2 separate regions of the Homo sapiens genome follow, and region 1 is linked to region 2. Evidence: fine-mapped expression QTL. A gene starts in region 2. The other region holds a variant in brackets. All regions are shown on one strand. Distances are from middle to middle. Region 1 holds the start of RARA-AS1 (RARA antisense RNA 1). Region 2 holds the start of RARA (retinoic acid receptor alpha).

Region 1 (15,148 bases), 34 kb before region 2:
AAGGGGTGCCTGAGAGGGGCCCATCCTGGCCCTGTGGCCCTGGGCAAATCCCACCCTGCAGGCCGGGGGAAAGCCATACCGTAGTGTATTTGCCCAGCTGGCAGAGGGCAGGGAAGGTTTCCTGGTGCGCTTTGCGCACCTTCTCAATGAGCTCCCCCACCTCCGGCGTCAGCGTGTAGCTCTCAGAGCACTCGGGCTTGGGCACCTCCTTCTTCTTCTTGTTTCGGTCGTTTCTCACAGCTGTGGAGGGCAGAGGGGGTTAAGAGGGCAGCTGCAGGCTGCTCAGGGCCTCGTCCACCCCCAGCCTGACAGAGAGCTGCCAGCTGCTGAGGAGGTCACCCAGGCTTGTAAGCACGCGCACACAGCACGCGTTCACGGGCAGGCAAGGCATTGCCACGCACTCCAGCCCTCCATGCCCACCCAACCCACACATCAAGTTCTGCCCCAGAAGCCCCATGAGCACAGCTGTGGCCCTGCACACACCCCCCACCCCACCCCATAGCCAGCCGCATGCTATCCCCCACGCGTCTACTCCAGCTCACACTCCAGGCGACGGTGCCCTCCTAGGTGCTCTGCCTCCTCTTTCCCCAGGAAGGTCCTTCTCCCGCCTCCACTCACCCAGCCCTCCCAGCTGCAGTCTCCCTGGGGGTCCCTTGGGACTGGCTCTGAGCAGCTCCTGGGGCAAGTGGGGAGTAGGGCTCCCCAGCCTGAGAGTGGGGGACCTGGCGGGGAGAATCTCTTGGCCCATTAGCTGGGGAGCTGACAAATCACCAGGGGCGCTGAGCCGCACACACCACTCGGCTTTAAAGAAGCGATGGGGTCGTTACCAGCCGATTATCCAGACACACAATCACTCACAGGGCTGGTGGTGGTGGCTGCTGACGCGGGAGGAAGGGAGGGTGGGGGAGGGGCTCAGGGAGGGGGTAGCGAGGTGGGGGTAGCTGGCATAATTTGGAGATCACTCATGTCGATTCTGCAAATTCAATAAAGTGCAGGGGAGAGAAGGGAGAGGGAGAGGGAGAGTGGGGGGATAATTTGGGAAGAGAAAATTGCAGCTGTGACAAGACGTTTATCATTCGGAAGCTTTAATTCTATTGAAATGGCAGCTGCTCAGCTCCGGGGCACAGAGCAGCCGGGAGAGGGGGAGTTGGCGGTGGGAGGGAGAAGGGGAGTTGGCGGTGGGAGGGAGAAGGGGTCCCCTCCCTGGTCCTTCTGCCATGAAAAGAGCAGAAGGTGGCACAAACAGAGAGGAGGAGGTGACAGCCCTTAAGCGAAGGGTTCCAGGCTTGTGGGTCTTGAGTTGTCACCCACTCTTGCAGCAGGAGCCACTTCCTGGGCTCAGGACAAGGCACCCCCAGCCTCCTGTGGCAGGACACTCCAGTCCCCTCCATTCCTGTCTGGGGCTCTTCGTGCAACAGTCAGAACCATCTCACCCGTGCCCCCTCCCCACTGCCCTCCCCACAAAGGGCTAGGGGGTCCTGCAGCCCCCTCCCCCATCCCATCCCCCAAGGCTCAGGCTCCATGGCAACGGCCACGCAGACAAGGAGGCGTCTGTCAGCGTCATTTATCTCTGACATCATCAATCACCGGTCACCATGGCAACACCCATGATTCAACACAAGAGGGTCTCCCTGTCCAGCCTTTCCCTCCCTCCCTCCATCAGGCCTCAGCTGAGCCCAAAGTGGAAACCCCGTTTCCTCTGGGATCTGAGAAGTCCCAATTCTTTCTTCCAACTCTGAATCCCAGGCTTAACTAGACAATGGCTTTTGGATCCTTGTGCCAGCCCTTCCACCCCCCCATACACACATAAGTCCAGCCAAGCACCCCTCAGAATTCAAGCCCCTCCCCTAAGACTCACAATCAGAAGGGACTGCCTATGCCTCTGAGCCCCACCCCAAAACCAAGCACGGCCTGGAAGAAAGCCATCCTGGAGCATGCACACACACACACATACGCAAGCACACACAGCCAGACGTGCAGAAACAGGAATGGTTACACATACACGGTCCCGGAGCACAGACCTGCCCGTGGACACACAGCCAGCCAGACTCGCAAACAGGTCCTTGCAGCTACACACAAACCATCCTCAACCGTGAGCCCGCACACCACGGCATGCGTGTTCATGCATGTGCACAAACATCCACAGAGCCCTGCTCCCTTGGTCTTTAGGAGCATCTGAGACCCCAACTGAGGCGGGACTCGGCCCCTGCCCTATGGCACTCACACTCCTTGGACATGCCCACTTCAAAGCACTTCTGCAGTCGGCAGTACTGGCAGCGGTTCCGGGTCACCTTGTTGATGATGCAGTTCTTGTCCCGGTGACACGTGTACACCATGTTCTTCTGGATGCTGCGGCGGAAGAAGCCCTGGGTATGGAGGGGAGGGAGTCAGGTTGTCCACACCCACAGTGGGAGCAGTGCCTGGCTACGGTCTCAGTCTAGGGGAGGAGGGCCAGGCCAGCTGCTGCCCCCAAGCGTTTGCCCATCGCCTACCTGAGCAGGCCAGAAAAGCTGGGGAGAATGATTCACCTAAAAGGATCCTCCTCAGGAGAATCCCAGTACCTGCCTCAACACTGCAGGATGGGCAGGAGTCTTCCCCCAACCCACAGCACACACCTGACTCCTCCCTTCCAGGGAAAAGACCTCAGGGCTGCTGGTGAGTCAGAAATAGGAAGACATGGGGCTAACTGGGCAACAGCCAGGGATCTGGAACCCACACCCCTGAACTCAGAACACAGGAAAAGAAGACAAGCCCGAAGAGGCCAGGAGGCAGATACACGGGCTGGCCAGAGAAATGGAGGCGAACACACACATGCACTCAGGAGCAAGGCAGAAAGATGTGAGTTCACCAAGACAGGTGTGCACCGACCCATCACAGACACAGACCCAGGCTGGCCAGGGGCTCCACATACAGGCTGACCAGAGGGACAGGCGGACAGAGGAAGAACAGACCAGGAACAACCAGACAGGACAGGCAGACACACAGCCTGAGTCCTTGTGCTTTGCCCTTGACCTCCGTCCCACATCTGGGGATAGCTACTCCAGGCTGAAGAGCAGCCCAGAGCTGCAAGGCCCAAAGCTGTGAAGATTCTGAGCCCCAATCTCTGGAGGAAGAAACGCACACAGAGGCTCAGGCCCCAGGGAAAGGAGGAGAAGCCGGGCGCAGGGCTGCTAAGGACCAGGTATACCTGCACCCTGGCACCTAACGTGAGGATGGGGAAATCCAGCCAGACACTGGGGAGCCCACAGCCCGGGCACCTGAAGGGGAAGCTAAGGCAGGGTGCCTGCTCCTAACTGCCTCCTGCCAGGCTGCCATGGTGAGGTTCAGGCAGGGCCGCCGGGGGAGGCCTCCTGGGTCCCCAGCCAAGAGCCAGTCGGCAGCCAGCTCACCATGGCAACCTGGGCAGCGGTGGCAGAGCAGGCGTACGCCCTGCCAGCTGGAGGATAGAGACAGGGAAAGGAGCTGAGGCAGGAGGGGACCTCTGGTTTGAGGGAGCCCTGCACATTTATGGGGGAGGACCTGTGGGGAAACTGTGGTAGGTGTCCCTGCTTGCTGCCAACTTCCACAGAGAAAGAAGAGCAGCAACTTCAGGGACACCCCCCAACTGCACACTCCCAGGACACAGAAGTGGGGACATCCCATTGACCTCATCAAGCTGTCCTTCCCAATGACCCCTTCAACTCACCTTGCAGCCCTCACAGGCGCTGACCCCATAGTGGTAGCCTGAGGACTTGTCCTGACAGACAAAGCAAGGCTTGTAGATGCGGGGTAGAGGGGGTGGCGAGGGAGGGCTGGGCACTATCTCTTCAGAACTGCTGCTCTGGGTCTCAATGGCTAGAGAGAGAAGAGGGGAGGGGCAGTTAGAGACCTAGGTCGCCATCCTTAGTACCAAGCTCCACCCTGCCTCACCGTCCCTCCTAAGAGCCTCTCCCAGCCTCACCACTGCTGGCAGGATTCAAGTCTTAAGAAAACTGGGACTCCCCAGCCAGACTCAGGGCAGGAGGCTGCCAATGAAGCCTCCAGCACCCCATCACTCCTCTGGACTCCTAGGACCCCCACCTTCAAAACCACAAAGATACAATGATAAACCATCACATTTGTATGTGTGCCGTGACTGTGCTTGGGGAGTAGGGGTGGGGGTCACCCTGATTCTAAAGCTCTTGCCCCTGGGCGGCCTGGCCCCGTTCTCCCCCCGAGTTAGGAAGGAGTTAACGCTTGAAGAGGAGGGAGGGAAGAGGACATAAGCTGGGGGCAGAGGAAACTGGGGTCAACAGGATATTCAAAGCCGGCCACTCCCCCGCCCCCTCTGCTTCCGCTCCCCCCTCCACCCCATTCTGCCAGCAGCCACTGCCCCTCCTCCACCCAAACAATCCCAGGGCCAGGGACCCAAGGCAGGGGGTGCAAAGAAGAGTCACAAATGCTGGGCACAGTAGGAGGTGTCTCCCTGAGATAGGGGGAGATACCCTGAATACAGGGAGAAGAGTCCCCAGGGCCCCAAAAGCCCATTATTCTGGGTACCCCCCATCTGGGGAGAGATGGCATGACAAAGGGGGTCTGTTCCCATCAATGCTCTGTCTGTCTGGCCTCAATACTATGTCCGGGTTACTAACCCCTCCCCTTCTGTTATTCAGCTCCAAGAGGGCAGCCAGGAGGGGTGACCCAGACAGCAGGGGCAGCCCTCACTGGCCAAATCCTCCCCAGTGTCTGGCTCCATGCCCATCACTGTAGGCAGAACAGGGCTGGGTTGGGTAGGGGCTATCCATGTCCAAAGCCTGGGCAGCTAAGGGTGTTGGGTGCAAGATAAGAACTATGACCAGGACAATCCCAGATTCCCAAGGGGCCACGCAGCATCGTCCTGAGGCCCCTACCAACGTTCAAGTTCTCTTGTCCAGGGCCAAGGATGGATGAGGATGCCTCCCTAGGTAGACAGATCCCTGCCTCCTCCCATATTCCACAATCCTACCTAGCCCTACCCCAAACTCCGGCACATGAGACTGGCTGGCATTTAAAGGTGCCCACAGCTCCTGGCCCAAGCACCTTACAGACATGAGTCACATAGCCCCAAATCACATGGCCCTAAAATTGGGGCACAGAGGAAGGAAGCATGGGAACACCAGGGGCTGACTATGTGCTACCACCCTCCCCCCTTACCTGCAGACACAGTGGGGGCTGCTAGGCGGCTGATGACAGGGAACTAGGCCAACAACCTTGGCAGGGCTTTCCTGGCTCTTAGTAGTGCCTGGGCACCACTTCCCAGGCCAGCCTGGCTGACCAGCACTGCTATGGCCCCCCATCCCCTTCCCTGCCCCAAGACCAGCCTGCAGCAATGGGACAGTTGATGCCCACACCATCCCCAGCCCAGCAGATTCTCTCCTGACCTCCCCACCGCCGTCTGCTCTTCACTCCAACACCAACTGCCCTGGCCTGGTTTTCTCCCACCTCATTCTCCCCAGGCCAGACAAGCAAATCAGACAGGCTGAGAGGCCTGAGAACAGCTGCTGGGGGGGCGGGGTTGGGGGGCCTGGGTGAGGCCAGGAGGCAGAGGGGGTGAGCCACAAAGCAGCCCTTTGTTGTGCTAACTTTTTCCAAGACGTAAAAGCAGTAACAATAGACAATCCAGACTGGTGGGGGGAGGGGAGATCAAGGGCAAGGGGGTATGTGGAGGGTTGGGGGGACCATGGCCTAGAATCTTGGTCAGCATTCCGACAAGCAGAGGAAGAAGGCACTGACCTCCCCACCCCTCCTAATCCACCGTTTGCCCTGGGCCCCGCCTCTCCCAAGGCCCCACTTCTAAAATGAACCAGACTGGAGAGGGAGAAAGGACTGAGGGAGCTTTGGGGGTACAGAGCGGGATGTCACGAGGGGAGCTAGGGTATGGGGAGTCATGGGGGATACCAGGATGAGAGGTAAACAGCTCTAAGGCCTGGGACAGACTAGAGGGCAAAAAGCCATAAAAACATGGAGCTAAAGCAAAGTCCAACAGAGGGTGTTTACGGAACTGAGAGAATGTGCTTTTTAAAATTATTTTTTGGCAGAATGGGAGAGATGACCAGAGGCAAGGACTACAGTTTAGGCTGGGCAAGGCCTCCTTTTAGCCCACCCAACGGCAGCTTGACTGCCTTGGAGGCTGTAACATAGCCTGCCCCCTACCTCCAGCACATCCCCACCTGTCACCCAGGTAACCCAGCTCTGAGGTTTCCCTGCTCTGCCCTTTGAACCCAGAGCTCGATGCCCCACCTCCCCAGGCCTCCAGCCAGCAGTCCAAGGAGGTGAGGTACAAGGACCAAGGCCGGAGGTGTGGGGAACTCCGGAATCCTCACAGCCTCTGCAAGAGTTAGGACACGGCCATAACTCCCTGCACACACAGGTGGAGTGGGGAGGGACACCAACGGGGGAGGGACTGCCCGGGCCTGGCCCATCCCTGCTAACCTCCCTCCCCAGAGGCCCAGCCCACCAATCTCTCCTCTTCCTGCAGAAGGACTCGGGCTAGAGAAGGACCACACCTTCTCAGCTCAAAGTTCCAGCGCCCAACAGAGGACTGGAACTGACCCAGGAAGCCAGGCGTCCCCTCCCGCCGACGCTGCCAGGGTGCCCCTCCCTCGCTCCCCATCCTGGCAGGGCGGGCGGCGCAGAGCGCTCCACTCCGGATTCCCCACGCCCCCGAGCCGTTCGCAGGCTCGCACAAGGGGCCGGTTTCCTGGAGGAGATCAGCAGGAAATCAGCCGGGCCCCCGGCCAGCGGCTCCCCTCCCAATCCAGCTGGCGCCCGCTCCTCCGCAGCTCCCCTCGCAGCCCCTGGGGATGGTTGGGGAGGGGGCGTAGGGCCCTCTGTACCGTCCTTCCTCCTCCCGGGGAGAGGCGGGGGTAGCTCTGGGTGTACCGCGGCAGCGGAAGAAGGCCCCTAGCCCAGCGGCCGCCTGATAAGCGTCTCCCCCTCCCCCAACTACGGGCATCCACGTGCTTCACATTCTTGGACGTCTGGGAGCGGGCGGAGGTGTGAGTGGCGGAGATTGGTGGGAGACAGATGGGGAGCCACATCCTGTGCACCCCCCTTGTCCTCTAATGCACCGAAATGAGGGCTCTGGGGAGGGAGGCAATGTCCCTAGGGCCCTGCAGAACCCAGGCCACCTCCTCCCAGAGCCAACCTGCTCTTCCCACCTTCAGTGGCAGTAAAGGGGAGAGTGGAGAATTCCCCAAGAGGGGGCTGGAGGCAGCTCCAGTCACCAGCGGACTTCCACACACCCAAGGGGACCCTTCCAAGGTGGTGGCATTGGCCCCACATATTCTAGACTGAGTCTAGTTGCCACCCTCAGACTCCGGGTCCTTCCTGTGCCTCAAGGCAAGCCCCCAGACCCCCATCACTCCCAACCTCACAGCCTCAGGACCCGAGTCCACTGACACCTCACTCACTTATATATGCACACCCACGCTCAGACTACGGGAACTGGAAACCCAGGCCTCTAGGTCTACTACCCCACCCCAGAATGG[A/G]TGTGGGGACAGGTCTCCACTTCCCCATGTCCAGTGGTTTAGGGGAAGGGCTCACCAATACACTGCCTGTCCTACTCTCTGTGATCCTCCTCCCTCTCCAGTTCTGGGCCAGGAAGAGCTGAGCTGTCCCCATGGGCTAAGAAGAGACAGGGGCTGGAGACCAAGGTCTCAGATCCCAGCTTCTCTCCAGCCCTCTGGAGAAGGTGGCCAAGGCAGTGGAAGGGGTGACTCTGGCAGCCCTGCTCCAACTATCCCCCTAGGGGAGGGGGGTCTTGCTCCAGCACTGGGAGAATGAGAAAAAGGGTCCTAGAGTCATCCTCTCACTCTCTCTTCTTCCAAAGTCAAGGGTGATACCTTCCCTCTTGTGTCTACAGCCACACAGCAGATTCGGCCCTAGAGGAAATGGTCGGGGGCAGGACAATAGGAAAAGCTGGGATAGAAGTGGCTCTGGGAGGGCAGAGGTGGGCTGTCTGTCCATCTCAGGTCTCTCTTCTCCCAGCAAGAGGGGTGGGGTAAGTCCTTTGCCCTTCAACCTTCTCCAATCTGCCAGGGCCCCCCCGAGACCCACTCCACCCCTCCTCCCTGGCAGGCAGGAGGGAGGCAGCAGGTCCAGGAAGGTGGGAGATCCTCCACGGAAGAGCTTCCCCTCCAGCAAAGAGCCCAAAGCCCAGGAGGGGAAGAAACCTGAGCCATCTAACAATAACCCCCTTGCGCCTGCTCCCGCCCACCCAGTGTACACTGCCTCACAGCTGCGCAGGAAAATGCCCAGGTGTACACCCTGGTGCTCCGAGCTCCTGAGTGTGCACAGAGCCCTTCCTCCCAGAGGAGCCTGCACCCAGGCAGGGGGCAACAAGGAGAGAAAGTGACCAGGCTGCCAGGATGCTAGGATTCTCATCAGTGCCCCTCTTAGGAAGGCACAGCCCAGGACCTGGCCCTATCCCCAAGTGAAGTCAGGGTAACAAAAGGACTCGGTGGCGGAGCTGGGAAGGGATGCAGTCCTCATTTCCAGAGCAGCCCCAGACCCACAAAAACAAACTCATTCCCCAGAGAACAAACCGGATTAGGATTAGGGGGAGAGGGATTCTTCTCACCAGAGCAGCTTCTCCCCTCCACTCCTGGGGATGAAAGCCTCAAAGATGACAGCCAAGTGTCTGGGGCCAGGACAACAACCCCATAAGGACCCAGTGCCCCTTGCCAAGATGGAAGGTTAGGATGGCAGACGGGTGTCTGATGAAGTTGCCCCTTTCTGCCACACCCCACTGTCAATACCAAAGACACTGAGTGCTCCCCTGACACCCACTCTAATGACGCAAGAGCAAGGGCTGGGGGCAGCAGCTGTCGCACAGGAAGGGGCTCTCCCTCGGGCTTTGGCAAGTGGGATCTGGCGGGGGGGCCTTCCCCCGGGAGCAGACAAACCCACACAGACAGGACCTTTACCCCACCCTCCAGCCTGCTGTGAAGCTGTTGGATTCCAGGCAAGAAGATATAAACTGGGGGCAAGGGGCTTGGGCTTCATTTCTCCTGGAAGAAGTGAAACAAGAGATGAAGGAATGTTGCTTGAAAGAAGGAACTCTCAAAGTTCCTCAGCCCTAATCTAACACAAATTGCACTTAGGGTTACTGGGGGGAGGGTGCGGCCGGGAGGGTTCAATTGTCCAGCAAGGGCAACACGGGTTAAGTGAAAGGTAGAGACAGGACCTCCACTACACCCCGGGACTCTCACCCCCGAGTAGTAGTGGAAGCCCTACCGCCCACTCCCACCCCCTACAACAGCAGACTGAGAGGCCGGTACGTACAGTGGTTTGAGCCATTCCAAAGCGGAGTCCGGAGCGGGGTGGAGTACGGACCCGGGGCGGGGAGCCCCTTCTCTGGGAGCAAACAGGCCCGGTTCTGGTTATAAAAATCCACCACTAGGAAGGGATTAGGGGTGGGACCCCCCACTTCTACACTCTCGTACATCTTTCCCCTCGAAGGCAAGAGGTCCGAGCTGGGAAGTCCTGCGCGCCGCCCCCGTCACTCAGCCGGCGGCGCCATCCGAGCAGAGCAGCTGGGGGAGAGGAGACGTCCCCTCGCCCCGACTGGTGACCCGGGCAGGGGGCGCCCCCTGCCCTGAAGTCCCCGCGTCTAAGTCCGCCGGCCGCTCCGCCAGTCCCGGTGAAAAGCAGGGAAGTTGTGTGTGCTGGGAGGGGGGGTCCGTCGGCTCTCCCAGGGAAGCCTGGCGGGGCCCGGGAACTCAGCGGCTTCACCTCGAGGGGACTCCCGTCTAGAGTCTCGTGGCGTCCGAGGCAGAGTACAGCGGCTCCCCAAGTCCGCAGGCCGGGGGCGGGATCAGCGCGGGGCTGGGGGTCAACGAGCACTTCCTCCTCCCAGCCGGGGATCCGGGGCTTCTCCAGGGATTCTCCGTGGCGAGGATTCCGGGTGGGGGTGGGGATCCCGCGCGGTTCCGCCCCCGCCAGGCCAGGGGCAGCTGGCGACTCGCTCGGTCTCTGGTGGTACGCGCCACGGCCCCCCCACCCCAGCTCTGCGCGCCCCCTCCCCTCCGGGCACCACCCCCTTTCCACCGCCCCGCCCCGTCCAGGCACCGCCCCTGGCTTAACCCATTCCCGGCGCGTCCGGCTGCAGCGGGAGAAACGCAGGGAACCGAGAGGGAGAGGCGGCATGTGGACAGGCAAGTGGGGGCAGCCTGGGAAGGGGGAGGAGAGGAGAGAAGCAGGAAGGGGGAAAGGCTCCAGATGAGGAGTACACAGAGTACAGAGGGACGCCGAGTACAGGGAGAGGAGGGGGCTGCGAGGGGACAAGGACGGAAGAGGGGCGGGCGTCCTCCCTTGTACCAGTTCCGGCTCCCAGGCTCCCCCAAGGTTTGGTCAGTCCCTGGCCGAGCGAAGCCGTGGTGGAGGAGGTGGTGGGGCGGGGAAGAGGGGGGTGGTCCCGGTGTCCTCCCCTTAACACACACCCCCACCCAGGCCGGGCCTCATTTGCCTAATGCAATGCGGCTGAACTCTCGCTGAACTCGCCTGGCGGCGCCTCACCTCCGAGTGACCCACCCACCGCTGCCCGTGACATCACCCGCTCGCCAGCCCGCCCGCGGGGCTCGCCCGCCAGCCCCCTGCCCGGCCGAACCGGGCCACCTCCCCCGGAGACGCGGAGAGCGGCGGCAGGAGGCGTAGGGCCGGGTCGCGCGGGGCCAAGTGTTTGGCACCCGGGTGTGACATTGTGCAGCTCGGACGCTGTGTCGGAATGAGACACCGGCTTGTGTCATTGTCTGTGACATCATGTGTGACTCCGGCCGCCGGAACCCGACGCGGCAGCGCGGGTGCTGTTGGCACAAACACAGGCAGAGGGGGCCCTCCTCCCCACGCTCTGCGTGCTTCCGGCGAGCAAAGCCCCGCCCAAGGTGTCTCCTAGCTGGGGAACCAGTACCGGCCCCTGGTGCACTGTCCAGCTCTGGAGAGATAAAAGGAAGAGCTGGTGCCTTCCAGTGGACTACTTCATCCTAGAAGCCCTCGGGATGCACGTTTCACTGGAAGAAAGGCCTAGCTTGGGTAGGTCCCTAGAAAGAGGGGATACCCCTGGAGGAGGGGGTATCCTATTACCCCCACTCTCTAAAAGGAAGGATGGAAATGTACATGCTACCCAAGGACATTCTTCTAGAAGAAGCCTGGCTCTTTATATATGTTGTCATTTTATCCTCACAGCAACTCCAAGAGATGTTTTACAAATAAAACAGGTCTCAGCAAGGCTATGTGGGTTGTCCAAGATCACATTACTAATAATAAAGAGTAGAGCAGGTATTTGAACTTCCTGCTGCCAAAGCCCATGTTCTTACCAAGCTAGGCCAATTCAAGGTATTTTTCTGAGCACCTTCTATGTGGACACCCTGGGGAACCTGCCCTTGTAGACCTTAGGGAGCAACAGCCATTAAGCAAATAATCACTGTATGCACACACAATTGCAAACTGAGATAAATGCTATTATGCTCTGAAGAATTAACATAGGTACCTAATTTAGGTTTAACTAAATTAGGGAAGAACTCAAATAAAACAGACCTACCATAAGAGAAAGTTTGTAAGTTAATCAGGCAAAGAGTAGAAAGGAGTGTAGTTCCAGTTAAAGGGCGAGTCTGTGCAAAGGCCCTGGGGTTACAGCAGTTGATGAGTTCATTGAAGGAACTGGCAGAAGGCTAGAATCATGGGGCACAAAATTCAAAAGGAAAAGGTACACAAGACCAGGCTAGAGAGGTGGGCTCAGGCCAGACCAGGGGGGCTTATAGGCCTCAGTAAGGCTTTTGGATTTTATCCTAAATGCAAGGAAAAGCCATAGAAAGGTTCCAAGCAAAGGAAAGATCAGATTTACAGTGTAAAAAGATCTTTCCAGTAGTTGTGTGAAGAATGGATTATAGGAGGGCAAGAGAGACCAGGTAAAAGCTACTGCAGCAGTCCAGGCATCAGACAAGGGTGGCTTGGCCTAGGAAACTGGAAGTGCTGATGGACAGAGGAAGGTGGATTCAATAAACATTTTAAAGGTACAAATAACGTGGGGGGGTGGGGGTAAGGGGTATGGGAAAAGAGGTAGCAAAGAGACTTGTGTGTGACTTACGCATCAGTGAAGTTCCTGAGACTGCAAAGCAGAGAAGTCCACTGGGCTGCTGGACAGGTGGATGTGGGGCCCTGAAGTGCAGTCAGGGCTACAGATGGAATGCTGGGGTCTGGGGGCAGGTATGCAAATCTTGACAGTGGATGAGACTAATGGCGAAGAGGACAGAGTGCTTCCATGCCTTCGGGATCTTTCAAATGATGGAGCAAGGCTCTGCGCTCACAGCTGCAAGGCGCTAAGGGACCTGAGACTCTGTCCCTGCCATCAAAGACCTTGTGGTCAGGAAAAGATGTCCCAAATGGTTACAGCTCATGGCAGGAACAGGGGAGAAGCAACTTCTGGGTAGCGAGATGAGTGTTGTTAAAAAATAAATAAGGACCCACAGGCATTCTAAGTAGGGAGGCAGAGTGTGGCAAGCAAGGGGGAACATCTGTGAAGATTTCTGGGAAGAGGCGGCATTCAAGATGTTCCTTGAAGGATAGATAGGATTTCCGGAGCTGGAGAGGAGAAGCTAGGGCAAGAGGCCCGTTCTGGGCAACAGCAAGGTCATGGGGCAGGTCAGAGCAGAACACAGTGTCCTGGGGCAGTGGGAGAAGTGGGAAACAAGGAAGGCTCTGGCCCGCAGCTGGGGCTGGGGGGCCTCCAGCGGCAGCTGTCTGCAGGCCTGGGGCCCCATCCTGCTCAGCCTTATCCCTCCCTCAGCTCCTTCTCAGGGCTTTGCGTTTAGTAAGCCCTCAGCAGGTGCAGGCCAAACTGGCCCCCACTTGTGCCAGGCAGGGCCCCCTCCTGTCCCCAACCCCATCTGGAGGGGACAACAAACAGGAAATCATGAGGCCCAGTGCCAGGTGGACACTGGCTCCCAGTATAGAGTGGCACCATCCCCCAAGACAGTACCCAGCTCTACCCTGCCCCTCACTATCACAGCCTTGCTGGGTACGTGAAACTCACCAAGGGCCTCAGCAGGAAGCAGGCGACCGTGGCCTAACGGCAACTCGCCCAGCCAAGGAGAGATTAGAAGTTTTGCTCTATTTTTTTATTTTTATTTATTTATTTGAGACAGAGTCTCGTTCTGTCACCCAGGCTAGAGTGCAGTGGTGTGATCTCAGCCCACTGCAGCCTCCACCTCCCGGATTCAAGCAATTCTCATGCCTCAGCCTCCCAAGTAGCTGGGATTACAGGTGTGCACCAGCATGCCCAGCTAATTTTGGTATATTCTGTAGAGATGGGGTTTCGCTATTTCGCTATCTTGCCAAGGCTGGTCTTGAACTCCTGAGCTCAAGCAATCCTCCCACCTCGGCCTCCCAAAGTGCTGGGATTACAGGCATGAGCCACCGTGCCCACGCTTTTTTTTTTTTTTTTTTTTTGAGTCCAAGTCTTGCTCTGTTACCCGGGCTGGAGTGCAATGGCGCGATCTCGGCTCACTACAACCTCCACCTCCGGGTTCAAGTGATTCTCCTGCCTCAGCCTCCCGAGTAGCTGGGATTATAGGTGTGAGCCACCGTGCCCAGCCAGAAGTCTTGCTTTAAGGAGGAGGAAACAGATTTGGAGAGAGCTTGGGTGACCTGCCCAAGGCCACACAGGAAGAACTGTCCTTTAAGACTCCTGCCCATGGAAGGCCCTTGGTCTGTGGGCTGGTTGAGGTTTCCAGCAACCCAGAAGTCAAAATGGGGAGGGGAGCACCTCTATTTCTGACAGCCAAAGGTTGAGTGGCCTCCAGTCAACCCTGGGAGGCCCAATCCCTCGCTGTGCCCCAACTCCACAGAGGAGGAGGAGGAAGAAGGCACTGCCCCAAAATGACTTAGAGATGGAAACCACTTCCTCTTCCCACAGACACTACTCCCTCAAAGGGCAGGCAGGCCTGCACTGGTACAGCCCCATAAGCAACACATCCCTTGGCATGGGGTAGACACAATACCTCGGCCCTGACCCACCTAAAAGGAAGACGGGCTTCCTTCCCTGAGTTCCCTCCCCGCGTCTATGCTGGGATCTTGTCCAGAGGGAACCTGTGCATTATCCTTGCTGGGAGATAAAAGGTGAGGGACCCCATTTTCATTAAAAACTCCATGTCATGTTCTTTTGTCTGACTCTACATTTCGGACTCCAAGAAAGGCATTGCTAGGCAGCACTCCCTCCACCTGGGCTGTCCCTCTGCCTGGGCTGTCCCTCCGCCTGGGCTGTCCCTCCTATTGTCCAGGGAAAGAGTGGGAAGCAGGGAAGGAGGCAGTATGCACAGACTGCAACAGCGAGGAAGTGGCAGAGGATAGGAAGAAGGGAAGGACACAACCTCCTCCTTTCTGCCTTCTGCTGGGGCTCACCCAGACCCTCGGGCATTCCCCAGTCTCTAGGCACACGAAGCAAACATGCAGCCACCCTTTTGGGGCTCCCATCCCCGGCTCCTCTGTTGATGGCTTGCAACTTCTTTGCCTCCATCCACAAATTGAAACAAATTAAGAATAAGAACTGTGGCTTTTACATTCTGTTCCTTCAGTGTCTGGAGATCGGGGGGAGGGTGCCCGCTGAGTTCTGCAAACTCCCGTGGGCTACAGCGGGCAGATTTGGGGGTGGGGATGGTGTGAACAGATTGTATCCACAGCTTCCAGGACAGGATGGAGATCTGGCCCAGGCCCCTTATCTTTCTTTCTCTCCAGCCTTCAGGATCCAAAACAGAGAGGAGGGGGTATGGCTTGGGCCTTCCCTACACCCCCTACCGGGGAAAGGTAGGTTCTAAGGCAGAGAAAGGGCCTCTACAGTGGGGAAGGGGGTTTCAGTCAGCACTAAGCCCCACCCCCCACACTTCCCACACCCAAGAGTGTGCCCCACAATCCACTCTCAAAGCTGCCTATGTAGATGGTGGAAAACAGCCCAGCTTTACAATCCTACAGTCATGATTCTGCAGTACTTTAACCTCCCCCAGCACTGTGTCCTCTGTGTAAGTGGGGATAATGTCCCTCTTCCAGGATTGCAGGGATTAAAATTTGTAAAACACAGACAAAGCCCCTGACACACAGTAGGTGCTCTATAGATGTTAGCATCCCATTCTCTCCAGCTCCCACCTACAAAGGGTCTGGG
Region 2 (15,148 bases):
TAATATGGAAGTGAGTGCGGTGACTCCTGCCCTAGCTGTCAAGCCCCTGAATCCTATAATTATAATCCTCTTCTAGGGACCAGCTGGAACTGAGAGCTGTGTGACCTTGACCAAGTCACTTCCCTTCCCTGGATCTTAATTATCTCAGCTGCAAGAAAAAGAAAAAAAAAAAAAGAGTCCAGGAGTAGATCTCCCGCAAGTATATCTCTTCTTTCCCCAAACACCTCTGCAGCTCCAGTGGGTCCTAGGAACCCTGGCTCAACCCAACCCTCCCAGCCCCCTTAAAGTACTCTTCTCCTCAAAGGGCAAGACTTTTGGATCTTCCAGTAGGGGCGCCCAGGAGCACCCCTCCGTGCTCAAAGACTCACACTCAAGCTTCTCTCTCCCGAACAAGTCTGGAGAAGCCAGGAAAGCTCTTTTTCATGTTCCAGCTGGACAGGATCTGAATCACCCTCCATCTGAGAGACCCCCAGTCCCCAATACAGTCATGACCCCCCTCCCAGCCTGCAGCTCTGTTTGGGAGGATCCTGTCCCCATCGCTAGCAGTCCACTGGCGGGCTTAGGGGGAAGCAGAATTGCTTAGAATACTCCCCTCTCGCCCTGTTCCCAGGCAGAGAAGTGGCCACAAGTGCCCCCACAGAACTTCCCACTGGAAGGGGAAGTGCTGCACTCCCAGGCCTCCAGCCCAGTGAGGAGACTCTCAGCCTGACCCGGTGGCAGAGCTCTCAAACCCACTGGTCCGACGGACCCCGCTTTACAAACAAGGAAAGAGAGTCCAAGAGCAGGCACTGGGTTTTGTGCACAGTCGCACCGGTTGCAGAGCCGGGTCTAGAATTGAAGTATCTGATTGTCCCTGGCTTTAGCCCAAGAGCCATGGTAAGGTAGGACAAGCCAGGATGGCGGGACCCTTTGCCCTGAGGGCCGGCGCACGGGAAACTGCCCCAGCAGTGCTGGGCCGCGCTTCCCCAGGCCCCTTCCCGCCTGCTGGGCCGGAGCTGTCTCCCGCTCCCGTCTGGATTTCCGTCCGCCGGTGCGAACCTCCCGCCCAGCCCCTCCCGCCCTGTCCTGTCCAGATTCATCCGCAAACATGCGCTCAGCCGGCAGGAATGCGCCAATGGCTCCCAGATGTGGACGCCACCGCTTAACCCCTTACCCCCCAGCCGCGCTCCCCCAAGGGCCTTCCAGCCTGAGCCCCGCCAACAGCAGGGAGCTCTGCCCAGGTGAGAACCAGCCCAGGACTGGAGTCAGCGCCAGCCCGCCCCTAGTGCCCACGGACACCTCCCAACCTAGATCCTACCTGTCTTCCTTCCTTGAGGCTGGAGGGGAAGGCTCATGGACACAAGAATGCAAGCATGCATGCACACAGCTACACTGCCTCCCAAGTGGGACGACCTTCAGGTACACCTGCCATCATAGGGTCAGGCATCCTGGTACAAATGCATTTCCACGTGCACATTCAGGGCAGGGATGTGTACATCCCCGACGCATGTATGCACATCCACGCATGAACAAGTACATCCAAACACATTTGTGCACAGACAAGGGCATGAAGCAGAGGGTGGGGCACACTTCTGCACAGACACAGAAGTAGCCCCATGTGTGGATGAGGGAAGAAATTCATACACACAAACCCACCCCCCGCAGGGGTCAGACACTCAAACAAGACCAGCACCCGTGTGTACAAACACAAAGCATGCACATCTTTGGGGCATTTCCTTCCTGTCCAGGGAAACCAGTACCACCTGTCCAAGGCCCAGCCCTACCCAAGCTTGACTGCAGAAGGCAGGAGAGGTCCCCAGGTGGGGGACCAGGAGTCTTCAATCTGCAGCAGCAGTTGAACTCCAGCTATGCTGGGCTCATAACAGGGCTTCCACCACCCCCTCCCACCAGGGACTCTGATGCAGGAGGAGAGAAGGGTACCCAGGGAGCAGCAGGAAACTAGCAGAGAGAGAAAAGCCACAGGCTCGGGGCGCCTCACTCTAAGAAGGACACTCCTTGGGGCCTACTGTTTCCCTGCACACAGGAGATAGGCTGGGGGAGGAGTCTGAGCCCCATCCCTCTTCAAACTAGAGGAAGTGAAGGAAGAGAGTCTGGACAGGTACCAGGGCCAGTGGCAGTTCTCAGTAGTCAAAAGAGATAAAATATAGCTCTGAGACACCCTAGGAGGGCCCACACTTCTAGTACAACAAGGCTGTCTTCTCACAGCCTGTGGAAACTCCTGAAGAACAGCATTAAGTGATACTCCGAAGAGATGATGAGAAGCAATTGGCCCTCCAAGACCATGGTGCGGGAGTTTGTTGGAACCAGCTCCAGCTGACTCCTCTTCCCCTCCCAAGCCTCCTAGCTCATCCCAAAAGGAGCTCCTCCCACAAGTACCTTAATAGTCCCACTCCATTTGATTCTCACAGTCCTGAAGGGGCAGGCTCCTGTTGCCATTGTAGAGATGAAAAAACTGAGGCTCAAAAAGAAAATTGCCTTCCTCAACGTCATACAGCTTGTCAATGGCAGGGCTGGGATTCAAACCCAGGCCAGGTATGGTGGCTCACACCTTTAATTCTAGCACTTTGGGAGGCCAAGATGGGACGCCAGGAGTTGCTTGACTCCAGGAGTTCAAGACCTGTCTGGGCAACATAGCAAGACCCTGTGTCTTTTTTGTTAAAATAAATAAATATATACGTGTGTGTGTGTGTGTGTGTGTGTATATATATATATATATATATATATATATATATATATATACACATATAAGCATATATATATATATATATATACATATAACCCAATCAATGTTCCCTCCTCAACTCTTTCCTCCCCTACTTACTCCAAATCAAACATGTATGACTCCACTCTGTGCCCTGCTACCTTTTCCTTCACCCCTTAGTGGATCACAAGGGAGAAGCGCCATCCTTGCCTGGCTCTGCAGGTTTATGGGTGGGGCCAGGACATGCCAGAGAGAGATCAGAGAAGACACTGGGGGCTGCACACATAGCCCTCCACCCCCACCACAAGCCTGGTGCCCACCTGCCTAGCAGGCATGGCTGGGTGACTCAGCTGCATCCGGGGGAGATGCCAGGGCAGTGACTCACCTACCGAGAAGAGCTGAGCCTGGCACCTTGCCAGCCCCAGGACAGAAGTGACTTAGTCACCACCAAGACTGTGATGCCCAGCAGGCACAGCCCAAGGATTGCAGACAGGGGCAGACTGTCCCTCCATGGTTACATGCGCCCCCTGGCAAAGAATGGGCCTCAGCATTCTGGGGCCAGCAATGTCTGTGCCAGCCCCTGCCCCCTCACCACTGCCCACCCCCACCACACCAGGCCCCGCTCCAGTGCCAACAAGTTTTGTGAGACCCCTGTGCTGCCCTGCCCCCACTGCAGCCTGCCCATCACTCACCACCCACTCTCCCACCTGCCCCACCTCCTCCTGCCACCCAAGTTGTACCCAGGCTGTGAGTCTCCTTTAACATGTCCTGGCAGCACTCCCTGCCCCCACAGCCCCTCTCACCCTCTCCCCTCATATACACATGCACTCAAACACACTTCTGCCAGCCTTGCTTCTGCCAGCAGCTGCTGAAGTTGTTGAGCAGGAGGGAAATTGGGAGGGTGGGGTGCAGGGATTGAGTTACCAGAGCTGATGGGGTGGGCTGTCACCCAATCCCTTCCCCAGCTCGTCCCCACCCCCACCCCACCCCTCCACCCGCCATATCCCTCACCCACCTGCCTCCCTCCCTACCTCTGGCTGGCAGCCTACTGCCCTTTAAGCCCGTCCACCCAAGCTAGAAAATAAATGTTCAAGAGTATTTGTCATGTTAAGACCAGCCTAGTATATGAGAGAGAATGAGACAGAGACCAACAGAAAGAATAATTCCTGTGCTCAGTGCTCTGGCTACAACCACTAAATATGTGTATGTTGAGCCAGAAGGGGACTGAGCAACTCCGCAAGTCCCAGAAGAGTTGGTGGGGCCCAAGGAGAGTTGACAGGCTAAACAGCCTCAATCCATTTGCACTATTGATTTCTCACACACTGCAGTAGGCTTGATGGGGGGTATGATAAATCAGCCCCCAAGAGACACAGAAACTGCGTAGAGAGAAGGGGAGGGGCTTCTGAACCACAATTGGTGGTGCACCATGACTTGCTTGGTGCGTTGGGGGTGGGCAGCAGAGGAATAGGAGATGTTGAGTGGCATGAGGCAGGGTAGGGGAGAGGGTGTTGGATTAAGGCCTGTCTGGAACACCTCCTTCCAGGTGGGTCTGAACTAATTTGAAGGAAGAAGGTGGGAGACAGATGCACCACGTGTGGCTACACAGGCAGGGCCTTGAACAACCCCAGGGGGTGCCATTCACATCATAGTCTATGGAATGGTTCCCCCTGCAGCTGTGCAGCATGGTGGCCTGTGGGGAGAGCCTGAGGCAGAAGACAGAAAGCAGACTGAATTCTGAGGGACCACAATTCTCCATTGAGTTTTCTCCCCATACACACCCCAACTTGCCCCAACTTTCCCTGCCTCCAGGCCTCAGAGGGGGCCTCCTTCTGACTAGCGATCAGAAGCCAGTAGTAATCTCCCCACTCCTCAGCCCTGCTCCCTTCTTTTGTTGGGGAGATGGGCAAACAACCACCATGACCCACAGGTCCTGGGCAGGGCAGGAGGAGGGCTCACAAAGGGCTCTGGGGAGTCTGGACGTCCCTTCTGTAAGGTGTCTCCTAGCCCCACAGCTCACCAGCCTGTGAGCCTGCTGGAGCCTGTCCAGCAGCTCCATTCACACCAGTGGCCACAGGCCACCCAAACAAACCCAACTCTGACCTCCTTCTAGCCTGGACACAGACTCTTTCCACATGGAGACTTATAAACAAACCAAGCTGGGATTTTCAGAGACCCTGCACAAAAAAGCAGATGGGAAAATGGACCAGGTGTGCCTGGCTCGTGGTCCTCCTTGCTGCAGTAGGGAAGGGAAGCACACTGAGCTGTGGTGAGGAACCATGACAACAGAAAAATGGTGCAAAGGGAGGGCCTGGGTTCAGGTCTCAACACAGCCAATGACTGATTGAGTGTTCTCTCTAGGCCTCAGTTTCCTTCTCTGCAAGGGGAAGGGATTGCCTAGGTAGCCTCTAAAACCCCTTCCAGCTCTGAGTCCAGCTGGATAAAGAAAACCCTGTAGGGTGCCAGGACTCTTCCACCCAGTCCAGCCCGGCCCATCTACCTGGGTCATGCCCCTCTGGGTAAGGTCCTGCCCCTGCTCCCCATGCCTCCTTGCTGTCTTCTGCCCCTCTGGCCCTTCCTCACTCCTCTGCCTGCCTGCTTACCCTCACCTTGGCCAGCCCCTCTGCCTGCCCCGTGCTTTTCTGCACGTCCCTCCTGCCAGGGGACTGACCAACTAAAAATAGTCCCTGCAGCCTTTCTCGCCCACAGCTGCCCAAAGAGCAGGAAATGAGGGGGGCAGGGAGGCCCATGCCCTGCCTTACCCCCACTAACTCCCAGGTCAGAATCATGTCCAGCACTCCAGCCTGGGGCTAGCGCCAACTTGGCCATCCTGGGGGCATCCCACACCCCTTTCCTAGGGGGAGGCCTGCCCATAAGTGCCTGCAATCACAGAGCTGCCCCTACCCTGCGGGAGGAGGAGAAAGGAGGCAAGCGGTCTAGAGGGAAACCTTCCCAATTTCTGACAAATCAGTGCCAACCACATTGTGGGCACCCAAAGGGCAGGGCCTGGCTCCACTGACTGGTCTTTTGAGGGCAGAAGGAATTGGCTTGGGGAAGTTTGTGACAGTCTCCTTCATCCTGGCCCAACTGGAGGGAAGACAAAATAGTGCCCCAGCCTCAATTATGTTAGTCCCTTGCTCCCCAAAACCAGGGATTTCACTAGCCACCTGCAGATATCATGGGGAAAAAAACTAAAAAATGAGAGCAGGAGATGTAGGCTTCTGTAAAGAGAGAAGCCTGGAGGCAAGAATAGGCCATGCCTGCCAGGCTGGGCATGTGCTGCCCCCAAGCTGAGTCAGAGGCTAGGAGGGAGAAGCTGGGGTGCTACAGTGCCAGAGGCTACTGTGCCCCCACCCCTGTCCCACCTGGGATTCCTGACACCTCCCAGCCCTAGGGGAAGGCCCTCCCCACAAAGGAGGAAGGAAACCAGCTAAGCGACTCTCTGGAGCCCTGCAGGGGAGCCCTGCACCACAGGCAGGGAAACCCAGGAGTCCTGGCGCCCAGCCCAGAGACAGTGAAATATCTTGGAGGGGAGGAAACAGCCCAGATTGAGGCAGACATGTGGCACCCCCAGAAGCTCCCAGATGTGACCTACTGGCCAAAGGGGCTAGATGAGGCAAAGTGAAACATTTCTGAACAAGAAGAGAGAAGAAAGTGGGGCTATGGGAATGGGGTGGCGGGGGTCAGCCTGGCTCATCGCTGTCCTTTCCTCCTTGTCAGAGTCAGTGACACTGACATTAAGGTCATCGAATATCAACCAGGTCCTGAGGACCTTGGTGTGTTTCCTCCTCTCCTAGTCTCCAGACCCCAGCCTGTTCATTCCTGAGCTTCCTCTGGCACCCCTTCCTTGGGGCCAAGCCAAGTAAGAAATCAGCAGGCCCAAGGTGGTGCTTGGGAGGCCGGGGCAGTGCCAGGGGCAGTCCTCATACCATCCTCCCACTGGCTTCCCTCCTGCCTGCTCTTAGCCGCCACACATATCTCAGCTGTCGAATCCGATTAGGGCTCCTGCCCAGTGAGCCAGACAAGGAGGCCACTGGGCAGGGGAGAGAGAGACAAGGACGCCAAGCAGGGATGGCAGAAGGAAGGTGGAGACATGGCTCAGGGGAGCAAGTATGGGGCCCCAGAGGAAGAAATGCCTGGTGGAGAGATCTGTACTCTGTGACCACAGGTGCTCTGGTAACAGCTACAACCTGCATTAGGGGAATTCTGCAGTAACCGGGGCAATAGCCCTGCCTAGTTCCTCCATCCCCCAGATGGGCAAAGGATGGGGGAAGAAAACTAAAGGCGGAGAGATTGACCTAGATTTAGGAAGAGGATTCCATCCTAGATTCCCCCAGCCATTACTACCGTTTGCAGTGAGCTTTACGATACATTGTCTCTGTGGTTTTAGTGGCAATGTCCCTGCTTGCTACTGATAGCCATTTTTACAAATGGAGAAACTAAGGCTTAGCAAAGGGGAAGACCTATATAAACACATATAGTTAAGTAACCAGTCTAAGTCTCCAGTTCAGGCCTCTGATTCCTAGTTCACTGCTCACAGTCAGAATCTCTACTTTCCTTGTTGGATCAAGACCAGAACGAAGTCTGAAGCCAATTCATTATCCACCCTGTCCTCTAAAACCAACCTTTAGGGGACCCGGGGAGCCATGGAAGAATGCAGAGCACACCCCACACCTAGACAGAGCTACCAGATGGGGACATGCCACCCATTCCTATCATACATTGATTGCTAGAGGAGTTCCCTCAGTGTGACCAGTCTCTTCTATCACCCCCCTCCCCAGTCTACTACCCCCAGAAGCAAGACACACACTCACACATGGTAAGTCAGACAAGGTGTACACCCTTCCTGTAAACCCACCAAACCAGAATGACACGCCCTAGATCTTCAGAGAGCAGGGCCTGTCTGCCCACCACAGGAGAGAAAAATAAGCCACTGTAAACAGTAGGTGCCATCTAGCCCTCTCCCAGAGAGCCTGTAGCGGGGCAGAAGCTTGGGGACCTTGTAGCTCTAGAGAAACACCAGGAGCCTGAGATTCTGAAAGCCAAGAAGCTCAGGGAGCTGGCAAGGCTGGGTGACCTCCTCAATCTGGTCCACACCCCCTTCCCTAGCCATCTGGACTGAGCCTGTTCTGGCCTGGGCCACACTCTGGTATCCCTCCCCTTCAATGCATGCAGCCACCTCTATCCAAAGCTTCTAGATCTTACAACCACATTGTCCCTACACACACACACACACAGGTGGGGTCGGGGGGCTTCTGCAGCAGGTGTTGAAATGTTGACATGGATGGGGGCTCTAAGCTGAAAGAACTTTCCTAGAGGAAAAGCTCACCAAAATGCTCACAACCTCCACTACCCTCTAGCAAAGCCTTTAGCCACCCAAGTGTGAGATGAACCTGGAAGGGGACATTAGTTCCCCTACAAGGTGTGTAGGGAGTAGGGGCAAAGTCCTGAGCTCTTTGGGTGAGGAAGCAAGAAAGAAATCCCTTGGGAAAGCTCAGGTCCCTCTCTGGCTCTCTCCTCTCTCTGTTACCTCAGCACTTGCCAATTCTCCAGTCTAGGTGAGGTGGGGGAAGGGGTATTAGGCAATACCGCAAAGGAGGGTGCAAGGGCGTGGGGCCTGGGCAGACCTTCCCCCTACTCCCCACTCTTATCTAGAGAACGGGAACTGCCTCAGGAGAAATGCAGGAAGGGTGCTGGAGGGTGCAGAGGGCTCTGAGCTTTCAGACACCCCACTGTTCCCAGGCTCCCACCTCCCAGGACTACAGTGAGCGACGGGAGAGGAGGGATGGGGAAAGCCAGAACTGGCGAGAAGGAAATGGCTAGATCAGAAGCAGAGGCCGGGGTCAAAGGCGGCCAAAGAATTGGGAAGGGGTGTGCATGGTCCTACCTGCTCAGGTGTGTGCTGGCAGGGGGCCGATGGGGTTCCCAGGAGAACCGGGGAAGCCCTCTCAGCTCGATTCAGGATTCCCCCCTGCTTCTGGGTTAGGCTGCTGCAAGAGGCACGGGTTCCCGTTGGGTCCTAAAGCCCACTCGCCAACTAGAAGGCTCTCCCCGCCCTCTTCCACCAGCCAGCCCCGACTGGGTCAGCGGGCGCAGAGCGAAGGACTGATGGGGGAGAAGTAACCCACTGGAAGAAAGATGGGCGTCTGGTCATCGGCTGGGGACAGGAACAGTTCCCTGTCTCAAATACACAGCATATGGATAACTCGAGGATAGGATGACCTGAAACAGGAGAAAATAGACATTTCTTCCTGCCTGCCCTGAGCAGATGGATTTAGGTTTTGGTGCTGGAGGTGGGGTTAAGATCTCTTTCCCTGCCACTCCTGCTAAGGCATTCAGCTAGAGATTTTGGAAAGGGAGCATTCATTTTGGTTGGGCGCTCACTTCTGTCCTCTTCCTCATGGACTGCAGGAGTCCCTTCATCCCTCCCAATTATTCCCAAGGACCTAGGAGGCCATAGAGGGTGAAAAAAGATTTTCAGCATGTAAAAAGTGCAGGCTCACTTAGATGGCAGCTGGAAACAGGGGAAACATGTAGGACCAATGTATGTGTATCTGGGAATGTGTGGGGTCTGCAAATACACATATATAGGCAAGAGTATAAACAGGTGGGGTTAGGGAAGGAGAAAAAAACAAAAAAGAACTTTGGGTTACACCTATTACTGGAAATGGTAATTGTCAGTGGAAGAACAGGACGTAGAACCTAGAGGTCAACTAGTGCCCCTACCCAGCCCTCAGTAATGTCCCGAATCTTTATGACCAGAATAAACAAGTTAAAGAGAGAATATTTTCCTAGATACCATTTAGGATAAATATAGGGGCAGAGGGACCTCAATACAACAGATCAACTTCAAGGTCACTGATTCAGTTTAGTATAGCCAGTCTTCTCAGTAGCTCAAAAGGGAGAATTCAGGTTTGGTGGGCTAGATGGGCAAGAGAAAGCTGGATAAGAATTCTGAAGTTGTGGATTGAGAACATTTTGCAAGGAGAGTTGCACATATCTCTAGCAGCAGAGCAGGGAAAACGTCATGAGGGGAAGGGCCAGAGGAAGTCAGCGACAGACTTGAGGGGAGAGGGCATGGCCTCTCCCTAGAAGGGGAGAAGACACCAGCAATGCCTCCACCTCTGTCTTGCAGGAAGAACTGAGTAAAGGAGCTGGACTAAGGATGGAAGGCCCCAGGGTGGAGTCCATGGGGTGAGTTTAGGTCAAACCTTTCACCCTAATGTGCCTCAGTTCTCTCCCAGCTGTTAAACAGGGCTCTTCGTTCTTCCCAGGCAGTTAATGAGTGTTTACAAAAGGGTTTGGAGATCCTCAGATCTCAGCTGGGCCACCACTACAGTTATAAAGTTCAATAAGAGCTGAGTGTTATTTGGGGAGGAGAGGAGTAGGGGAAGGAAACAGATACTCTCTTATAAACTAAGGATAAAACTAAGCTCAGAGAGAAGCACAAGCCTAGCTGCCACAGGATATCCTTGTGCCCATGGATGGAGGTCACCCCACCCCCCCATCAACCACCACCAAAGGCTGGCCTCCAGCTAGCTGTAGGCAGAACCCAGACTAGCAGCTGGTCTTCATTAACTCCAGCTTTTTCACCCCCCACTGTGAACCCACAGCTTCTACAGGCCTAGGCTAGAGGGGGCTGCCCTAGCCCGACCTTGCAGCTGACACTGGGGTGGGGGGCACCGCACCAAAGGCCAAGTTACCAGCTGAAAAGAAAGTTGAAGCAAGAGTCCTTTTTCCCATTGGGAGCAAGAAGAAAGCAGTGTGGGGGTGAGAGGGTGGAGGTGGGGGAATTTAGGGCAAACAGCAGGCAGTGAAGTCAGCTGGATTGAGGCCCAGAAACCCCCACACCCTGGGGCCAAGTCTTACTCTAGCTTTGCTTTCAGCTTAAGTCTTGGCGAGGCCCCAAACTAGGGAAGGCCCTGGTTGCCCCTTTCCGCCTCCCTACCCCCACCCTTATTAAATACACATTTTATCTCTCAGCATCTTCATTATCTTAACTGAAGGAGACAAGCAGTGGATGGCGGCAGCAGAGAGCGTCAGGAGCGGGGGGCGGTGCGGGGAGCAGGCGCACCCTTGTTATAAAGTGCTGATCTAGCTCTTTCAGGCAGTGTGGGAAACAGAGGAGGGATCAAAGGGAGTGAGGCTGATTCAGAACTCAATTAGAGCTTTTTAAAAAACGAAGCTGGCTCTCTCCTTTCACCAGTCTTCAGCCTTTACCCAAGCCCCTTGCACCCAATTAACTTCCACTACCAGTGCCTTGGGGCTGGGGTTGAAAATCAAGGGGAGGCCAGAGGGCACACCTTCTCCCCTTACGGAACACACCTCTTCTAAGAGGAAGACCTGCACTGTTTGTAGCTTAAGAGAAGGTATCTTAGAAAGTACCTTATCTTTTCAGGAAGAACCTGAGATCACAACTTGCCCCAAGTTAAAAAGAGGGACATCAAAGGTGGGCTCCTCCCTAAACCCTTGCCTACAGACCCAGCTTCTGGCCAATCTAGCCACACTGAGTGACATCCAGACAGGCAGCCCTCTTCACAGCCTGTAGATAAGACTCTTCCCCTCATAGCCAAAGCGTCCCACCAGCAACATGGAAGTTGCCTCAAGCAAAATGCCACTACATCAGAGGGAGTGATTGGAATGCATCTGTGAGGCTAATAAATGCTCCAAAACTGTGCCAAGACACATTTTGTAAGACAGAGCACCCTTCTTATGCAGGGGCCTGCTCCACCTCTGTGCAAAAGTACCACCAACGTTTACCTTCAGCTTAGAACTGTTCTCACCACTGAGGGAAAGGCAGTATCTTATTTGGTTCACTTATCTGTTAAACAACTATTGAGTACCTACCAGGTATTAGGCACTATACTAATTGCTAGGCACAGATACAAATGTAAATAAAATTTCAATCTTGGATCTCTTTTGTCCTCCCTCAGCAGTCAAGGTAACACGTCTCAAGATATTTAAAAAATATATAACCGGCCAGGCATGGTGGCTCAAGCCTCTAATCCCAGCACTTTGGGAGGCCGAGGCGGGCGGATCACGAGGTCAAGAGATCGAGATCATCCTGGCTAACACAGTGAAACCCCATCTTTACTAAAAATACAAAAAAATTAGCCGGGCATGGTGGCGGGTGCCTGTAATCCCAGCTACTCAGGATGAGGCAGGAGAATGGTGTGAACCCGGGAGGCGGAGCTTGCAGTGAACAGAGATCGCGCCACTGCTCCAGCCTGGGTGACAGAGCAAGACACCATCTAAAAAAAAAATATATATATATATATATATAAATAATATGTATATAATATATAATATGTATATTATATATAATATACATTATATATATAAAATATATATAATATGTATATAATATATATATAAAACCTAAATCACATCTTATTCCCAACTTCTCATTCTTATTGGTGTATCTGCTTTCTGTCTTTTATAGAGACAGGGTCTCGCTCTGTCACCCAGGATGTAATGCAGTGGTGTGATCATAGCCCATGCCGAGTTGAACTCCTGGGCTCAAAGCATCCTCCCATCTCAGCTTCCCAAGTAGCTAGGACTACAGGTGCATGCCACCATGCCCAGCTGATTTTTAAGATTTTTTTGGTAGAGAAGGGTAAGGGGGTCTCACTATATTGCCCAAGCTGGTCTCAAGCTCCTGACTTCAAGTAATCCTCCCGCTGCTGCCTCCTCCCAAAGTGTTGGCATTACAGGCATGAGCCACCACACCTGGCTTGATGTATATTCAAAGGGACACTTAGTAAAGGTAGGGAGCAATGCAAAAGAGGGGGCGCAGAGAGAATAAGGCTCTGCCAACTTTTTGATCTCTGGGTAGCTTAGACCTCACACATTTTTTTTTTTTTTTTGAGACAGAGTCTCACTCTGTCACCCAGGCTGGAGTACAGTGGCATGATCTCATCTCACTGCAACCTCCACCTCCCAGGCTCAAGCAATTCTCCTGTCTCAGCCTCCCAAGTAGCTGTGATTATAGGTGTGTACCATGGCACCCAGTGAATTTTTGTACTTTTAGTAGAGACAGGGTTTCGCCATGTTGGCCAGACTGGTCTTGCACTCCTGACCCTTAAGTGATCAGCCCGCCTTGGCCCCACAAAGTGCTGGGATTACAGGCATGAGCCATCACACCCAGCATTTTTTTTTTTCCTTTTTGAGACAGTCTCATTCTGCTGCCCAAGCTGGAGTGCAATGGCACGATCTCGGCTCACTGCAACCTCTGCCTCCCAGGTTGAAGCGATTCTCCTGCCTCAGCCTCCCAGTAGCTGGAATTACAGGAACACACCACAATGCCTGGCTAATTTATTTTAGTAGAGACAGGGTTTCGCCATGTTGGCCAGACTGGTCTCAAACTCCTGACCTCAGGTGATCCGCCCGCCTCGGCCTCCCAAAGTGCTGGATTACAGGCGTGAGCCACCACCCCCAGCCTGGACCTCACACATTCTTGCAGAGTTAGCTAGCCACAGGCAAGTCTCCATTGAGCCAGAAACATCTGTGGCAGCTCTGGGGTTGAAACACACAATTTATTTTGTCTATGCTCTTTCCATGGCAACACCCAACACTCTATGGAAGCTTAATCAGCTTCCTTGGGGTGGGGGAGAGAGATAAACCAGGATATAGACACACACTCCATCACCTTCAAAAGGAAGAATGTAGGTCAGCATCTTTGCCACTACTCTAAGTGAAGCAGCCTATGATCCTGGCAAAAACTGCTAACCACAAGCCCATCCCATCCCATCCCACTAAAACTCCTACCACCTTCCTGAAGCTCTCAGCTTCAGGGAGAAAAGCCAGCAAGGAAAGGGCTTTCTTCCTCAGCAGTCTGAATTACACTTAAGACTTTACTGACAAACATATATCAGCTTTTGCTCCCACAAGGGCAGCAGAAGCCAAGCAGGGACACTAAGTCTGCTTCATGCATCATTGACAGAACCAACCCTGTTCCAACTGCTAAAGTCTTAAGAGCAGCAATGACCTAGAAATTGACAGTGAGGGGAGAAGAAAAGGAAACTAACAAATCAGTAGACAGAAAACTCTATTTCCAAAACCAGGGGAAAGGGAAAGATAGAGGGGAAAGAAATTTGGCCCCTTTGAATCTACCAATGTGATTTTGGCTGGAAGCCAGGGAGGATACATAGCAGCCCCACTGCGAGTCAAGCCATGTTCCTGACTCAAGCCCTACAGTTAAGAGGAAGGCGCCAAGCCTCAAACACAATGAGGTGGGGAGGCTGCTCCTTATTGGGCAGGATCCTACTGTGGACACAGAACAGACAGCAGCTGCCCACAGTGTGGAAACAAACTGTAAAGCAGTCACGTCTCTTAAGGCTGCAGCATCCAATAAAATGTAATTTAAATCAAGCTTCGCATCTGTTCTCAATCCCATTCAGTCTCTGCTTTCCATCAGCCTTCGGACAATCTTTGCAATTATGCATGTTAACCCTTATAGTCCCAGACACTTTCCAACCTTCTAGGTATAGAACTGTGTTTCCATGTTCAAACTACCTTCAGAGGGAACGAATACTCTAGTAAAGGAGTGTGAGAACAACATTCAGACTCATGCCTACAGACTATCATGTGCTACACACACCAGTGGGTAGTGTTCATTTCAGAGGGCTCTCTCTGCTTTCCTTGCCTCTATCCCATACCACCTGTTGTAGCTCAGATCACATTACACGGATACAGTGGTCAGGATGAATGAAACAGTGGCCAACAGATCACTTGTACACATATCAAGTTCCAAATGGAAGGCCATGTCAGAAAGGTAGAGGCGGCAGCAGGAGAGCTCAGGGAAAAGCAGACTTGGTCACTGGCTCTCAGATCATTCGTATCACACATGGTTTACATTTCAAGCATTTGCTTCAGTTATGAAAGGACAGCAATCTCCCAAACAAATCAAACTAGAACTTCCCCCTTTCCCTCAAAACTACCTCAGCCTCAAGCATCCCCTTTCAAAGTAGTCAATGTTATAAGGGTGCCCTCTGGTGTCTCAGTCACAAATTGCCATTTAATGCCACCAAACCAAACCCAGAAGGCTCTTGATTAACCAACCATATGGACTAATTTATCTAATAAGACTGGAAAAATGTGTTTAGATGAAAACCCAACCCCAAAGTAGTCATCTTGAAACAAGTGGCTTCATCTAAGGGCAGCAAAGACTGTGGGACAGCCTAGGAAGGAATTTTCACATTGACTTCTGAAAGCTTGAGCTCTCTTGAAATCTGATTGCTTAAAAAGACAAAGAATGCAACTTGAAAATAAATATATTCACAATCTGTAGAGTTATAGTCTCCTTATGACCCCAACGCCCTTGGGAGTGCCCAAGAAACTCAACGAGTCTAAAATGCCACAATGTTGTAGTATCTGCACCATGAACATAGTATACTATACAAAGAAATAAATTCTTTAACCAGTGTCCTCCAAATCTCCATGTGGACTTGC

What was found.
Region 1: its variant is fine-mapped to the expression of RARA in whole blood (TOPMed, PIP above 0.99).

Annotation. Positions count from the first base shown.
Region 1 is chr17:40,337,002-40,352,149 of GRCh38, reverse strand. It overlaps RARA (retinoic acid receptor alpha), which reads right to left. Exons shown (of 9, transcript NM_000964.4): 3 at 3,686-3,834; 4 at 2,225-2,366; 5 at 80-240. RARA-AS1 (RARA antisense RNA 1) reads left to right here and starts at 9,014. Exons shown (of 3, transcript NR_110861.1): 1 at 9,014-9,274; 2 at 9,460-10,154; 3 at 10,450-11,283. RefSeq lists silencers at 6,616-6,665, 10,426-10,655 and enhancers at 6,270-6,820, 6,821-7,370, 7,371-7,921, 9,022-9,571, 10,036-10,085 and 2 more. The variant A/G (reference allele first, on the strand shown) is at 7,488.
Region 2 is chr17:40,302,724-40,317,871 of GRCh38, reverse strand. RARA (retinoic acid receptor alpha) reads right to left here and starts at 8,692. Exons shown (of 9, transcript NM_000964.4): 1 at 8,586-8,692. It overlaps CDC6 (cell division cycle 6), which reads right to left. Exons shown (of 12, transcript NM_001254.4): 12 at 13,215-15,148. LOC105371934 (a long non-coding RNA gene) reads left to right here. Exons shown (of 2, transcript NR_189654.1): 2 at 1-2,679. RefSeq lists a silencer at 173-382 and enhancers at 5,406-5,906, 7,496-8,379, 8,691-8,820, 8,831-9,000, 8,380-9,265.